Regions from separate parts of the Homo sapiens genome. Here region 1 is reported to be linked to region 2. The links are microRNA targets in miRTarBase. Many come from high-throughput screens and were not tested one by one. Region 2 holds a microRNA gene; the other region holds the end of a gene's coding sequence.

Region 1 (7,107 bases), not on the chromosome of region 2:
AGAGGGCAGGACAGTCTCGGCCTGTGCCAAGGCTCTGAGGGCTAAGAAGGCCACGGGAGTGAACCAGAGCCACCCTGGGGAGGCCAGGGCAGGTGCAGCAGAGGCAAGGAACCTTCCCCAGGGTGCCACAGGAGGCAGACAGGAGGCAGAGGGCTGTCCTCAGGCAGGTGCCCCAGGGGAGCAGAGGAGCAGCCAGAGACTGCATGTATTAGGGTGGGGAGTGGGGACAAAAGCCTGGGGTCCTGGGGCTCACCAGGGAAAGGGGAGCTGAGGCTCTCTGGGGAGCTCTGCTTTAAAGGGGCACAGAAACCCCAGGGTGTGAGGACTGGGTGGGGACATGTCAGCAGCATGGCCAGGCAGCCAAGGGATCAGAGCCTGCTGTTTTAGGGGGTGAGAGTAGGATGATGACAGGGGCAGGGCTCATTCTCCATATTGGGGTCCTGGAGGGTCCAGGCTCACAACCAAGGTCCTTTGGCCAGGGGTAGATGGGGTTGAACCTCTGGCACCTACTCTGGAGGCATCTGCCCTGGGCCTGCTGAGTGCATGGAGGCTGGTGGCCCGGCATGCTGACAGTTCTCCTGGCCCTGCAGATCCTGGCAGCCCTGGAGAAGGATGAGCAGGCGCGGCGGCAGCGGCTGCGGAGCAAGCTGGAGCAGGTGGTGGACACGATGGCCCTGAGCAGCTGAGCCCCAGCTGTGATCATCCAGCATGATGCAGCGTGAGGACAGCTGAGCAGGGACCGGGACAGCCCTCACCGCATGCGTGTGGAGTGTCCGGTGGTGCTCGGGCCGCCGCAGTGCAGCGACTGCCCGGCCCTCCCTCCCCTGCCTCACCCGGTCGGGTCCCGGCTCTTCCTGTGTGGAGGTGATGGTACCTGCCACACCACAGCTGCGCACACAGCTGCTTGCTCAGGGGCCGGGACAGCACTGGGTGCTCAGGCTGGCCAAGGACCTTCATTGCCTGGCAAGAGCTGCCCAGTGGCCTTCATGGGAGAAGGGCTGACCTCTGAGGGGCTGAGGGGTGAGGCCAGGGCCCTCCAGGGGGAGGGGTAGCCAGCTTGGGCTGTCCCCTTGAGACCAGGACAAGAGGCTGGGGGTGTCAGCATTCCCAGCTTTCCAAGCTGCCCCCAGGCGGCAGAGTCTGAGGGTCCCGGGGCCCGGTTGGCAGCTGGAGAAAGAGGCAAAAAGCCCGTAGCCGGGCAAGAGGAGCTCAAGTCGGTCTGGGCCCGTTGCCACCGACTCCCACCTCCAGCACCCATGCCCGCTGCACCGCTGCCATCCTCAGATTCACCGCGTGCTCTGCGCGGCCGAGGCCGGAGCACCACATCCACCTCGCCCCAGAGAGGCTCTGCTCCCTCCTATGGAGGGGCTGTGGGCCAGGCTGCTCAGACTCCTGGGTGGCTTCCAGACGGACCGGGCAGCCCCTCTCCGTCCTCAGGGCTGTGCCTCTGGGAGCCACTGGGCCAGGGGCCCCGGGTCGCAGAGAGCACGTTCCCGTTATTTATTCCCCTCCGCGTCCTACACAGGCTGCCCTGGCAGCTGTCTTCAAGGGTAGGCTGAGCTCCCCACCCTGGAGCCCCTGAGGGCGGCCCCTGAGCACTCCTCTCTCTCCACTCTCTCTGTCCCTGCCCCAGCGGCTTCCAGTGTGGCATCTCAGCAGTGTCCTGGCCCCTCCAGAGCAGTGGGACATCTGGGGACTGTTTTTGTGTTTAGGGGAAAAAATTCTGCTGCACTCTGCTTGGGCCTTGAGGTCTGTGGCAGGGCTCCTCTGGCCCGCAGTGGCCTGGATCTATCTGGGCCATGAGTGACGGGCAGTGACCAGAGGGACTGGAGGCCAGCGGTGTCCACCCTTGCCCTCAGCAAGAGAGAATGCATTCTTAAAAGAAAGCTGTACATGTATATATATGCATATATATATATGTGGCTCTAGCCTCAGGCTCCAGCCCCAGTGGGGTACTGTACAGTTAACTGAAGAAGAATTTTAAAGACGATTTGAACAAGAAAATGAAGGCAGTGGGAAAGCAATGCCAAATGGTTGTGGAGAAAGTGGCCGGAGCCTCCCTGGAGTGGAGCAGCCCTGAAGCCTGTGCCCCCCGACCTGCGGGCCGCTGTTTTGGTTTGACATGACAAGGAAAGGACTTCCTGCTGACCCTGAGAGCCTCTGGGGTGCCGCGGCACCACGGGGCATGCATGATTGTGCTAGCGTTTAGTCTGAGTTGATCTTTTTAAAACTGCAAGTGTTGAATACTAGAGGTTGTTAGACCCTTTTTTATGTTTTTTAATTAATCAGTCACTTGTAAAAGCAAACAAGCGGTCCATCCCCTTTTCAAGGTCACTTTTTTGATGGTACCGAAGATCCCATGGACATTAAGGGACAGCTAACTGTGGCCAGACTCAGCCCCATGTCCTTGGCCAGGCCCAAGGAGAGGACTCGGCCCCATGGGGTGTGCCAGTCTTGCAGTCCGCCCCAGCTGAGTAGCGTGAGCCAGATGACGCCACAGAGACCCGCCTCTTCCCTGAACGCGGGTCGGTGTGGAGTCAGTGACTGCTGACTCAGGGAGCTCCTTGGCCCCGTGGGCACTGTGCCAGGGCTGGGGCCTTCTGCTGCTGCCACACCCAGCTCAGGCCTGGGCCAGCCCCTGCCCCCAGCCCACTGAGGGGGTGGGCTTACTCCCTGGGCAGTCTTGGGGGCCAGAGCTGAGGCCAGTCCATATTACAGTGGCTGGGCTGTTTTTTTCAGTAGCCCCTAGCATTGGCTGGGATTCCTGTTCCTGGGTGCGCCTCCACCTCCCTTCTGATGTTTCCTGGCTATGGTGGGGTGGGAACCTCAGTTTCCCCCAAAGTCTTCCCTGGATGCTGGCTTCAGGTTGAAGTCCCTGGTTCTTCCAGTTCCTCACGGGTTAGGTAGGGGCTCCTGCATCACCTTCAGAATCCAGTTCCAACCCCCACTCTCCTTAGGCCTTGTGCTCTGCTCTGCCCTGCCAGGCTGCCCTTGTCCATGTGAGTAGCATGGGCGGGTGGTGGGGACGGCAGTGGTGATGAAGGGGGTGCACCACAGGCCTCATGAAGCAGTTCCCACATGGGCGTGTGGCTGGGGCGTGGCCACCACAGAGCACATGGCTGTGTCTAGGCGCAAGCACTTTAGCAGTATCTGTTTACATGCGCAAGGATCAAGCCGACTACCTGTGCTGTCTACTGGGACAGCAGTCTCCGAGCTACTCCGTACCTCCCTCTGCCAGGTCGTGGAGTTAGGCCCCAGTCCCTACTTGTCACTGGTTCCCACTGTGCTCCTAACTGTGCAGCACCTGGGAGCTCTGGCCTGGGGCTGGAGGCCCTGGTAGGAGCTGCAGTTGGAGGCCGTTCTGTGCCCAGCAGCGGTGAGCGGCTCCCATGGGCCCTGTGTCTGCAGGGAGCCAGGGCTGCGGCACATGTGCTGTGAAACTGGCACCCACCTGGCGTGCTGCTGCCGCCACTTGCTTCCTGCAGCACCTCCTACCCTGCTCCGTGTCCTCCCTCTCCCCGCGCCTGGCTCAGGAGTGCTGGAAAAGCTCACGCCTCGGCCTGGGAGCCTGGCCTCTTGATATACCTCGAGCTTCCCCTGTGCTCCCCAGCCCCAGGACCACTGGCCCCTTGGCCTGAGGGGCTGGGGGCCCCACGACCTGCAGCGTCGAGTCCGGGAGAGAGCCCGGAGCGGCGTGCCATCTCGGCTCGGCCTTGCTGAGAGCCTCCGCCCTGGCTTTCTCCCTGTCTGGATTCAGTGGCTCACGTTGGTGCTACACAGCTAGAATAGATATATTTAGAGAGAGAGATATTTTTAAGACAAAGCCCACAATTAGCTGTCCTTTAACACCGCAGAACCCCCTCCCAGAAGAAGAGCGATCCCTCGGACGGTCCGGGCGGGCACCCTCAGCCGGGCTCTTTGCAGAAGCAGCACCGCTGACTGTGGGCCCGGCCCTCAGATGTGTACATATACGGCTATTTCCTATTTTACTGTTCTTCAGATTTAGTACTTGTAAATAAACACACACATTAAGGAGAGATTAAACATTTTTGCTAAAAGCTCTTGGCTCCAGGTTTTCCTTGCTGGGAAGCAGGGGCGGCCGCAGGAGTGCAGCCACATCCCAAACACGGAAGCATATCTCCCTGGGAGACTCAGCCACACCCAGGACAGATGGCCACACTCTGTGAGTTGGGTGCGCTCAGCCCAGGTGACACATTGGAGCCCTTGGCGGAGACTAAAACACCAGTGCCTGACCCCCACTGGAGCCTTGGAGCTTCAGGGGTCTGAGCGGTGGTCACTTTTAGATGCTTCCCAGGCGATTCTCCCGTGACCCCTAGCTCAGAGCAGTGGCTTCCAGCCCATGCCGTGAGGCAGGAATTCCTGGGTGCCTTGTTAACTAAAATCAGATTCTGACCCCGAGGGGCCCATGAGCGACAGCCTGGGGGAGCTGAGGCTGCAGTCCTGGGCCCCCTGCCTTCAGTAGCCAAGGCTGGAATTGTGTTTCCCAGACTCGCAGCCAAGGAACCGGGTTTGAGAAATGTTGGTCTTTCCAGCAGAGACAGGCTATGCTGCTTCATCTCATGAAAATGTGTACAGATACTAATGATGGAGGTGTGGATGCAGCTTCTGCCAGTGCATGGCTTTGGTCAGTGGCCCCGTCCCTGGGCTCATTTCATCCATGGCTCAACAGGGGTGGCTGCTCCTGCCGCAGAGGGTGGGTGCAGGGTCAGGTGTGACACATCCCCAAGGGCCCTGGGCACCTGCTCTGCAGCTGCGCCTCCAGGCAGACCCCAACCTGGACCGTCTGAGCACTGCCTGTAAGTGAACTCACTGGGACTTCCCGGCAACCCTGGGAGGTTAGGGGCAGCTGCACCTGCAGCTGAGGAATTGAGGCACACAGAGGTTGCACAATGTGTCCCAGCCACATGGTGGTAAGCAGCAGCCCGCCCAAACGTAGGCCCTTGGGACCCCAGGCCCTCCCCACCGCCCCCAAGCTCCCACCTGTCTCCCACCAGCCTCTCCATGAACTCGTTCCCAGGGCTGACAGTGGCCCATAAGTCATCAACAATACCTCCCACTCTCAAACAGGCGCATCTTGACAGTGGGGCTGCAAGCACAAGCTCTGTGCCAGGCTCAGTAACTCAAGAGAAATCAGTGTAATCACCACGAAATTGTGTCGGAAACAAATTTAGCAAATGTGGTCCCGTTTAGGGTGTGACGCAGCCTGTTCTCATGGCTCAGTCCCCTTCAGCTTTTTTCCGGCACAATCAGCCCATCCTCAATTACCCTCATTAGGCCTCCAAGGGCTCCAGCCCATCAGCCTGGAAGCTGAGCCATCTCTGAGCCGCAATCAGCGCTCGCTGTGCGAGTGATCGGGCGCAATTACACAGCAGCGGTGATGGGGCCTTCTGATTGCTGCTTGAGTGCGCTGGCTCCTGAGGGTATTAAACCATCAGCTATTAATGCTGGTGGCTCTGAGCAGGGCACCTGGATGGGCTTGCTGCAGAGCAAGGGCGAGGCCAGCCTGTGGGCCTGGGTGGGATGGAGGCACCCTCCACCCAGAGCAGATCCAGAGGTGACTTCAGACTTCCCACCTGGACCCCAGAGCAGCCACAGCTCAAGAGCAAACACAGGCTCTGAGCAGAAATAAAAAGTAACAGGCCAGGCTAAAACCTGATACAGTGACTATAGATGGTGTCTTGCCCTGAAGAAAACTGGTGGCATGGGAGGGTGCCCACCTGGCCAAGTGGGCAGGGAAGGCCTGAGGAGGGATGGAGGAATCGAGGCTTGAGAAACAAGGAGCCAGCTGAGGTGACATCGGAGAGAGCATTCCCTGTGTCCAGAGCAATGGAAGAGGCCAGGTCAGCTCTGTGCAGGGAGGTGCAGGAGGTGCTGTGCCTTGGGGAGCGAGGAGGGTGGGCTCTGATTCGCGCGTCTGGCAGTCGCGGGACAAGGCCAGAGGAGGCTGGAGACCAAGAGGCTCCTGCAGGTATCCCCAGGGCCCGTGGCCCGTGGCACCCCTTTGGGGCCTTCCTGGAGAGCCATCAGCCCTGATGGTGGAGCTTTGGGGGCAGATGTGTTCTTTCTGAGGACAACAGTCATGGAGTTGTCGGTGGAAGTGACTTGGGTCATATCCAGGCTGAGCCTCTAGTCCTGGAGCAGAGCCTCCAGCCAGCCTGCACTGGGCACATAGGCAGGTGCACCATAGACCTTTGGGGAATGGGACACGGATGCTGGGGAGTGGTTTCTGCAGCATACAAGGCTGCCGGGCTGCAAGTCAGTACCAGGACCAGCCCCATTGTAGAGGGGAGAACCTGGGAGCAGAGAGGTAAAGTCACTACCCTCAAGGACACACCGTTACCCATGGTGGGACCAGGATTCAAACTCAGACTCTCTACTTCATGCTGCAGCACTCCTCTAGTGGTCTCCATGCTGGAGACTCCTTGAGGACAACACCAGGGCCTGATACCCAGAGTCTGGACACAGAGCAGAGGGGCGTGAGCAGCTGGCAGTGAGCAATGCCCTGGGGCCTCGGGAACTTTGAGGAAAGCATGTTCTCAGGAGCATTTCCCCTGTAGCCGCCTTGTAGATGCCGTCAGCCCCTTGAGTCTGCCCCCATGGCTGGGAGACTCACGCACTCTGCCCAGCGTGGGGTCTGTTTGAGAGATGGGCGTTCCAGCCATCGTTGCTGCATCCGGCTAAAACCACCCTGAGAAGCACCTGAGCACATGTTCCCTGCTGGGTGCCCCCCTGCATTAGAAATGATAGAAACTTAAGCTGGCTGAAGCAAGAAAGGGAACTAGCAGGCTCTTGAAATCAAAAAGTCCAAGGGTGCATCTACCTCAGGCATGGCTGGATCCAGGGGCTCCTGGAGGTCATGAGAAGTCTGTCCTCCTTCTCTGTCCTCTGTAAGGGCTTCATTCTCAGGCCAGCTCTTCCTAAGTGGGGGGCAGCGATGACCACCAGAGGCTCTAGGTCTACCAGCTGAGCAGTCCTGGTGAAAACAGGACACCCTTGGTCATCACGCACATCCAGGTAGGGATTTCATTGGCCAATGTTTGGGGCAATGTCTTGATTTGCTATTTGAACCAGTCATTCTGGCCTAAA
Region 2 (7,114 bases):
CTAGCTGGCCATGTCCCCTGTTCTTGTGCTGTGTGGACCTCTCACCCCGTCGGTCTCCTTGCCCCTTCCTCCTTCCCCCGTTCCTCTCCAGGGCCACCAGGCCCCTCAGGAAGCACACACATACCCCCATTATCCAATTTGGGGATGGCCCCCTATCTCCATGGGGAGGAGAGGGAAGGACCCTCAGCAGGGGGCAGGGCCCAAGGGGTCCCTCCTGCAGCAGGGGGCCCGGCAGGCTCCCAGCTGTGCTCTGTCTTGCCTGGGCCCCTCCCCGTGGCTACTGTTGCAGGAAGCAGCCTCCTGGGCAGCGGTCCCCAGGCTGGAAGGAGCGAGGGTGGCGGCTGGCAGGGGCTGCAACCAGGAATGTACGTCCAGGAACGTGGCTGTTCTGCCTGGGGAGGGGCCGAGGGCAGACGGTGGGGGGTCCCCCACAGAGAGGTCTTGGCTTCTGCCTCTCTGTGGAATGGGTCAGTTGGGGTCTTCCCCGAGTCCCCGTCTTATAGCTGCCCACTTCTGCCTAAGGCCCCTGCCAGGGGAGGGAGCCCGTGGGTGATGAGGTCATCCCTGTCTGTGGCTGCCCAGAGCCCTGGCCAAGGAATCCAGTGAGGGGGGAGCTCTGGGGTTGGCACCACTTCAGTGGAAAATGTGAAGGTGCAGCTCCGGCGCCTCCGAGGGCGGGGGTGGGGGCAGCGTGGCCGCCATGCCACGTCAGACCCCAGGGCTGGGGAACAGGCGTAGGTCAGGGCCAGTGACCTCAGGGCACTTGAGGCTGGGCCTGCACTCCCCCTGCAACCCCCTCACCTGCTCCCCTGGGCGGCCCGAAGCGGGGGTGGGCCTTGTAGGATCAGATGCCGACATGGTGGCCCCCGGCTGCAGGACATCCGGAACACGGTGGGCAACGTGCCCTTGGAGTGGTACGATGACTTCCCCCACGTGGGCTACGACCTGGATGGCAGGCGCATCTACAAGCCCCTGCGGACCCGGGATGAGCTGGACCAGTTCCTGGACAAGATGGACGATCCTGACTACTGGTGAGGGCTGGTGGGGTGGGGCCAGCAGCCGGGGTGGGCCCGAGGGGTGGGGCAGGGCTGGCGGGGTCTGACTGGCGGTCTCCAGGCGCACCGTGCAGGACCCGATGACAGGGCGGGACCTGAGACTGACGGATGAGCAGGTGGCCCTGGTGCGGCGGCTGCAGAGTGGCCAGTTTGGGGATGTGGGCTTCAACCCCTATGAGGTAGGTGGCAGGGGCTGGCCCCTGGGCGGCGGGGGTCCTGGAGGCACCAGCAGGGCCTCAGCCACTCTGGCCCACACGCCCACATCTTCTCCCCCAGCCGGCTGTCGACTTCTTCAGCGGGGACGTCATGATCCACCCGGTGACCAACCGCCCGGCCGACAAGCGCAGCTTCATCCCCTCCCTGGTGGAGAAGGAGAAGGTGGGGCACACAGCCCCTGGGGCTTGGCCTGGGCTGACCGCCCCGCACTGCCCGTCCTGACCCGGCTGTCTATGCAGGTCTCTCGCATGGTGCACGCCATCAAGATGGGCTGGATCCAGCCTCGCCGGCCCCGAGACCCCACCCCCAGCTTCTATGACCTGTGGGCCCAGGAGGACCCCAACGCCGTGCTCGGGCGCCACAAGATGCACGTACCTGCTCCCAAGCTGGCCCTGCCAGGCCACGCCGAGTCGTACAACCCACCCCCTGAATACCTGCTCAGCGAGGAGGAGGTGGGCCTGCATCCTGGGGGCCGGGACCCTGTCCCCATGCTTCCCTGTGACCCTCCCCACCCCTGTGTCTTGGTCTCCACAGCGCTTGGCGTGGGAACAGCAGGAGCCAGGCGAGAGGAAGCTGAGCTTTTTGCCACGCAAGTTCCCGAGCCTGCGGGCCGTGCCTGCCTACGGACGCTTCATCCAGGAACGCTTCGAGCGCTGCCTTGACCTGTACCTGTGCCCACGGCAGCGCAAGATGAGGGTGTGTGGGGGTGGCACACCAGGGGGGTGGCACAGGGGGCAAGGCTGACCTGGCGCTCTCCTGCCCCAGGTGAATGTAGACCCTGAGGACCTCATCCCCAAGCTGCCTCGGCCGAGGGACCTGCAGCCCTTCCCCACGTGCCAGGCCCTGGTAAGTGGAGACTAGGGGGCTGGGGTTGCACCCTCCCAGTCTGACTCCTCACTGCCGCCGCCTCCTCAGGTCTACAGGGGCCACAGTGACCTTGTCCGGTGCCTCAGTGTCTCTCCTGGGGGCCAGTGGCTGGTTTCAGGTGGGTCCGAGCTGGGGGCAGCCTTGAGCTGGGGGGCAGGTGGGATGGCCAGGTGTTGAGAGCTGTCTCTGCCGCATCCAGGCTCTGACGACGGCTCCCTGCGGCTCTGGGAGGTGGCCACTGCCCGCTGTGTGAGGACTGTTCCCGTGGGGGGCGTGGTGAAGAGTGTGGCCTGGAACCCCAGCCCCGCTGTCTGCCTGGTGGCTGCAGCCGTGTAAGTGGAGGCCCTGGGGGCTGGGGAGCCAGGGGTGGCACTGTGCTTAGGGGCCGTGTCTGGGCCTGGCTCACAGGGAGGACTCGGTGCTGCTGCTGAACCCAGCTCTGGGGGACCGGCTGGTGGCGGGCAGCACAGATCAGCTGTTGAGCGCCTTCGTCCCGCCTGAGGAGCCCCCCTTGCAGCCGGCCCGCTGGCTGGAGGCCTCAGAGGAGGAGCGCCAAGTGGGCCTGCGGCTGCGCATCTGCCACGGGAAGGTACGTGGGGCGCCTTGGGGGTGAGGCTGCAGCGGGAGGGGCCCGGCTCAGCCACTCAGCCAGCCTTGCTCTCCTGCAGCCAGTGACGCAGGTGACCTGGCACGGGCGTGGGGACTACCTGGCCGTGGTGCTGGCCACCCAAGGCCACACCCAGGTGCTGATTCACCAGCTGAGCCGTCGCCGCAGCCAGAGTCCGTTCCGCCGCAGCCACGGACAGGTGCAGCGAGTGGCCTTCCACCCTGCCCGGCCCTTCCTGTTGGTGGCGTCCCAGCGCAGCGTCCGCCTCTACCACCTGCTGCGCCAGGAGCTCACCAAGAAGCTGATGCCCAACTGCAAGTGGGTGTCCAGCCTGGCGGTGCACCCTGCAGGTGAGGGGTGGGGGCGGTGCACCCTGCAGGTGAGGGGTGGGGGGGGGGGCGGTGTACCCTGCAGGTGAGGGGTGGGGGTAGGGGCAGTGCACCCTGCAGGTGAGGGGTGTAGGTGACGGGCAGGGCAGTGCACCCTGCAGGTGAGAGCGGGAACACCTGCATCACAGCCTTTGGCCCTAGGTGACAACGTCATCTGTGGGAGCTACGATAGCAAGCTGGTGTGGTTTGACCTGGATCTTTCCACCAAGCCATACAGGATGCTGAGGTGAGGAAAGCTGGGGGTGGAGGCGGCCAGCAGAGCCCCTCCCTTCAGCCCGAGCCTGCCTTCAACCTGGTTCCCTCCCCCCAGACACCACAAGAAGGCTCTGCGGGCTGTGGCCTTCCACCCGCGGTACCCACTCTTTGCGTCAGGCTCGGACGACGGCAGTGTCATCGTCTGCCATGGCATGGTGTACAAGTGAGTGCTGACCCTGCCTGGCCCCCTCCCCAGGGCAGTGGTGTCTGGCCGTGCCCTGAGCCCTCCTCGTCCCCACAGTGACCTTCTGCAGAACCCCTTGCTGGTGCCCGTCAAGGTGCTGAAGGGACACGTGCTGACCCGAGATCTGGGAGTGCTGGACGTCATCTTCCACCCCACCCAGCCGTGGGTCTTCTCCTCGGGGGCAGACGGGACTGTCCGCCTCTTCACCTAGCTGTTCTGCCTGCCTGGGGCTGGGGTGGTCGTGCTGAAGTCAACAGAGCCTTTACCCTGTGCTGCCTGGTGCTCCCACCTTCTTGAATTGGGGTTGCCAACAAAGCCGCCCCCACCACAGCGCCGAGCCTTCCCCTCACTCAATTTTGCAAAAACAGTGGGGACAACACAGCCAGTCCAGGGCACCCTCTGGCCCATCCCCTAAGAGGCTCAGCATCGCACCCTGTCAGTCACTCGCTGGGAGCAGATGAGTTTATTGGGCACATCCCTCACTGAAGGGCTTGGGTTTGGTCCCCAGCAGTGCCTGTTCTGGGGCCAGGCCCCTCCAGTCGTGTGCCCAGGCTGTGGTCCTCAGGAGGCCCTGTCTTGGAGCTCAGGCACAGGTCTGGGTGCATACTCCTCGCTGGGGGTGCTGGCCGGAGCCTTAGGCGAGCTTCACCAGGCGGCCCAGGGCCTCAGCAGCCCTCGTCCGCACCTCGGGGGCCGGGTCCTTCAGCAGGATCTGGAGCGCTGGGGGTAGAGGAGGGGGGCTGCCTGCGGGCTGTGACCTCGGCATGCCCATGCCTGCGCGTGGGCCACGCTCTCCTGACAGCCTCTGCTGGGAGGCTCAGGAGCCAACGGAAAGATCGTTTTTCCTTTTTTAGTGTTTTTTAAGCTCTTTTGGAACAGTTAAGAAGTTTCCGTGAATTACTAGAGACGATGAGGTCACCAGTGACAGGGAAAAAGTCCTGAAATCCAGGAAAATCACTTAGTCCCTGCGGGTGCCTACAGGGTCAGCAGGGCCCAGCGGAGGGGCCCCGTGGAGGGGTGCTCACCCGCAATGAGCTGGTCCAGGTCCACCTGCGGCTGCTGCCTGGGCTCCGAGTGCAGCACCAGGAACCCTGTGAAGTGGGGGCATCAGGCGGGGCTGCCGGGCGGCGTGGGGGTGGGGCAGGGGGTGGTGCTTACCGGTGAACAGGGGTGCAGCAGCTCGGACGTTCTCCCAGCTGCTCTTGAAGTAGAACAGGCAGGTGGTCAGGAGACGGCCCAGCAGGTCTGGGAAATGGTGCATCTGGGGAGAGGCCTGGTCAGTGCCGCCTGGCCCCGCCCCACCCACCACGCCCCGCCTGGCCCCACCCCTCACCAGGTGCTTGCAGGTGGTGTTGAGGAACTCCCCGAAGTGCAGGGCTCGGCCCTCCTGCAGGTGTTTCTGGAAAGCAGCTGAGAGCTCCTCACATGCCAGATTGGGGCCACACATGCGCAGGGCAAACCTGCAGGCCTAAGGGATGCGGCACTGGGGCCAAGTCCAGTTGAGGCCACCCACCCCATCCCACTCACCCCCTGGCTACTCACGCTGGCCACGGTGGCCTGAGGGTCCTGCAGGTGCAGCAGCAGGGGCGCCAGCCCGCCCACCACCTGGTCCAGGAAGACGTCCTCACAGTCTCCGTGGCAGACCTTGTTAAGGTGCCCAAAGAGGCGGATAGATGCCGTCCGGAACTCCATCTTCTCCTGGGAAGGACATGCAGCATACGTCTCCTCACAGGCTGTGCCCCTGCAGGCCTGCCTGCCTAGCCCCCTGCCATTGATGGGTGCCCTTGCCTGACCCGGGCCAGGAAACACCCCGACGGGTGGGGGCCTTACGGGTGGGGGCTGCCAGGCCCAGCAAAGCAGCAGCCCTGCAGGTCCGCGCTCTCCACGGTCACCTAGCCGAGGTGGGAGACAGGGAGGAGGGTGGGGCTGGGGCTAAAGCTCAGAGTAAGAGGCAGGAAGGGCTGGGGCCCTCTTCCCTCCCCCTGCCCCAACCAGCCTACACTGTCGAAGAAAGGCCGGATGCGGATGGCCACGTGCAGCAGCCCTGAGCGCAGGTCCCAGGACTCCACCAGGTGCACCAGCCTCGCAAGGCCCAGCATGGCCTCCAGGGCCACTGGGCTGTGAGGGTTGTCCCCGTCGTCCAGCCCGCCAATCATGGCTGTGAGGAGCTGGGGGCCGTGGGTTCGCACCTGAGGATACCTTACACTCAGCCTGGGTCCCAGAGTCACCGTCTGCTACCCCACAAGACAGGGTGGCCTCCATGCACAGCCCCCCACCCATGCTGCCTGGGACCCAGAGGGGCTGGTGGCCACCCCACCTTGTCAGGGCAGCCGGAGGCCAGGTTGGCCAGGCCGCGGAGCACCAGCCTCCGCACGCTGGCGCATGTGTCCTTCTGGCGAGCCGCCAGGCTCTCCAGCAGCGAGTCCAAGAGCATGAGGTCGTTGGCCACGTTGCTGTTCAGCAGCTGCAGGCAGAGGTGCTGTGACTTCCCTCTCCCCGCTGACCCCAGGGCTCAACCCACCAGCCCAGGCCCAGAACACCAGAGGCTGTCCCCACGCCGGTGTGGCAGACAGAGGTGGAGCACCTACTCCCTGGGTCTCCGATCAGTGGCGACCCCTCCCTGTTGTGCCGCTGGGGCCTGCTCTGACGCCCGCTGTGCTCTGCTGCACGGCCTTGGGCAAGATTTTGGCATCTTTGGCCACGAAGGCCAAGACCACACCACCAAGGGCACCTGGGGTCCCAGGGGCCAGCCCTGTCCAGCTACAAATGTACCCAGCTGGACTTGGGGAGAGTACAGGCTGCAGGGAGCCTCGGTCCTCCTCTCACCAGGCACAGAGGGGGTGTCCCTGGGTGGGACTGAGTGAGTTCTGGCATGGGGGAGGAGGTAGCTAGCATCCACATAACCTCCCTCACAGACCACGGTCGAGGGGGCCTTTTAGGGGTAAGAAAAGGGCATCCCGTGCCTGTCCTGAGCAGGAGCCCCACCTTGGTGCCCAGCATCCGTCCCTGGAAGGGCCTACCTCGGCCAGGAAGGCGGTGGTGGTCACCCTCTGGTTCTCATACGCACTGCTGTGTGTGCATGCCAGCGTCTTCAGCACCAGGGGGAGTCGGGGCCCTGCGTGCTCAGCCATGGCCCTGGGAAAGGGGGCCGCTGAGGGTGCAGGGGCTGTTGCTGTGCTGAACCCTACCCAGGCACCTTCCACCCTGCACAGCCCTGGTCCGCTCCACCGCCAGCTGCCAGGTTCTGGGAGTTCTATGTTTCAGAGATGCCTCCCAGCTTGCCTCGCCAGGCCTCTGCAGGGGTGCCTCCCTACCCCTGCCCCAGAGAGTGAACAGGCAGGAGCCCAGGGCACCATTGGCCTGACACGCATGGGCCCCCGCCTGATCCTGTCATGTTCTGGGCTCGAGATCCGGTGGAGCCCAGCCAGTGCTGGAGCTGCAGTGGGCTGGGCCCGCTCACCTGGCCAACCTGGTGGCCCCCTCCTCATGCCCCGCCGAGGTCCTGAGCAGTTCCCAGCCTCCCTCCAGGTCCATGCGCTGT

What was found. Region 2 holds the annotated microRNA hsa-miR-7112-5p (ACGGGCAGGGCAGUGCACCCUG, at 3,211-3,232, shown strand). A microRNA usually pairs through its seed, bases 2 to 8, with sites in the 3' UTR of a target mRNA and lowers its output. Matches are read on the target gene's strand: a 7mer-m8 pairs with bases 2 to 8, a 7mer-A1 pairs with bases 2 to 7 and ends in A, and an 8mer does both.
Region 1: miRTarBase lists PLXNA1 as a target of hsa-miR-7112-5p. Seed matches in the 3' UTR shown: 7mer-m8 at 806-812.

Annotation. Positions count from the first base shown.
Region 1 is chr3:127,033,332-127,040,438 of GRCh38, forward strand. PLXNA1 (plexin A1) reads left to right here. Exons shown (of 32, transcript NM_032242.4): 32 at 591-4,058. The coding sequence ends at 686. Among named protein-coding and RNA genes, the nearest start is that of PLXNA1, 54 kb to the left of the region's middle.
Region 2 is chr8:144,258,834-144,265,947 of GRCh38, reverse strand. It overlaps MIR7112 (microRNA 7112), which reads left to right and starts at 3,211; the gene lies at 3,211-3,275. It overlaps MROH1 (maestro heat like repeat family member 1), which reads right to left. Exons shown (of 44, transcript NM_032450.3): 36 at 7,034-7,114; 37 at 6,594-6,708; 38 at 5,891-6,037; 39 at 5,574-5,762; 40 at 5,116-5,271; 41 at 4,907-5,041; 42 at 4,732-4,834; 43 at 4,599-4,664; 44 at 4,022-4,293. The coding sequence ends at 4,208. BOP1 (BOP1 ribosomal biogenesis factor) reads left to right here. Exons shown (of 16, transcript NM_015201.5): 4 at 877-1,031; 5 at 1,117-1,234; 6 at 1,332-1,433; 7 at 1,511-1,723; 8 at 1,806-1,967; 9 at 2,037-2,117; 10 at 2,187-2,256; 11 at 2,338-2,470; 12 at 2,547-2,727; 13 at 2,807-3,095; 14 at 3,276-3,360; 15 at 3,445-3,552; 16 at 3,631-3,903. The coding sequence ends at 3,784.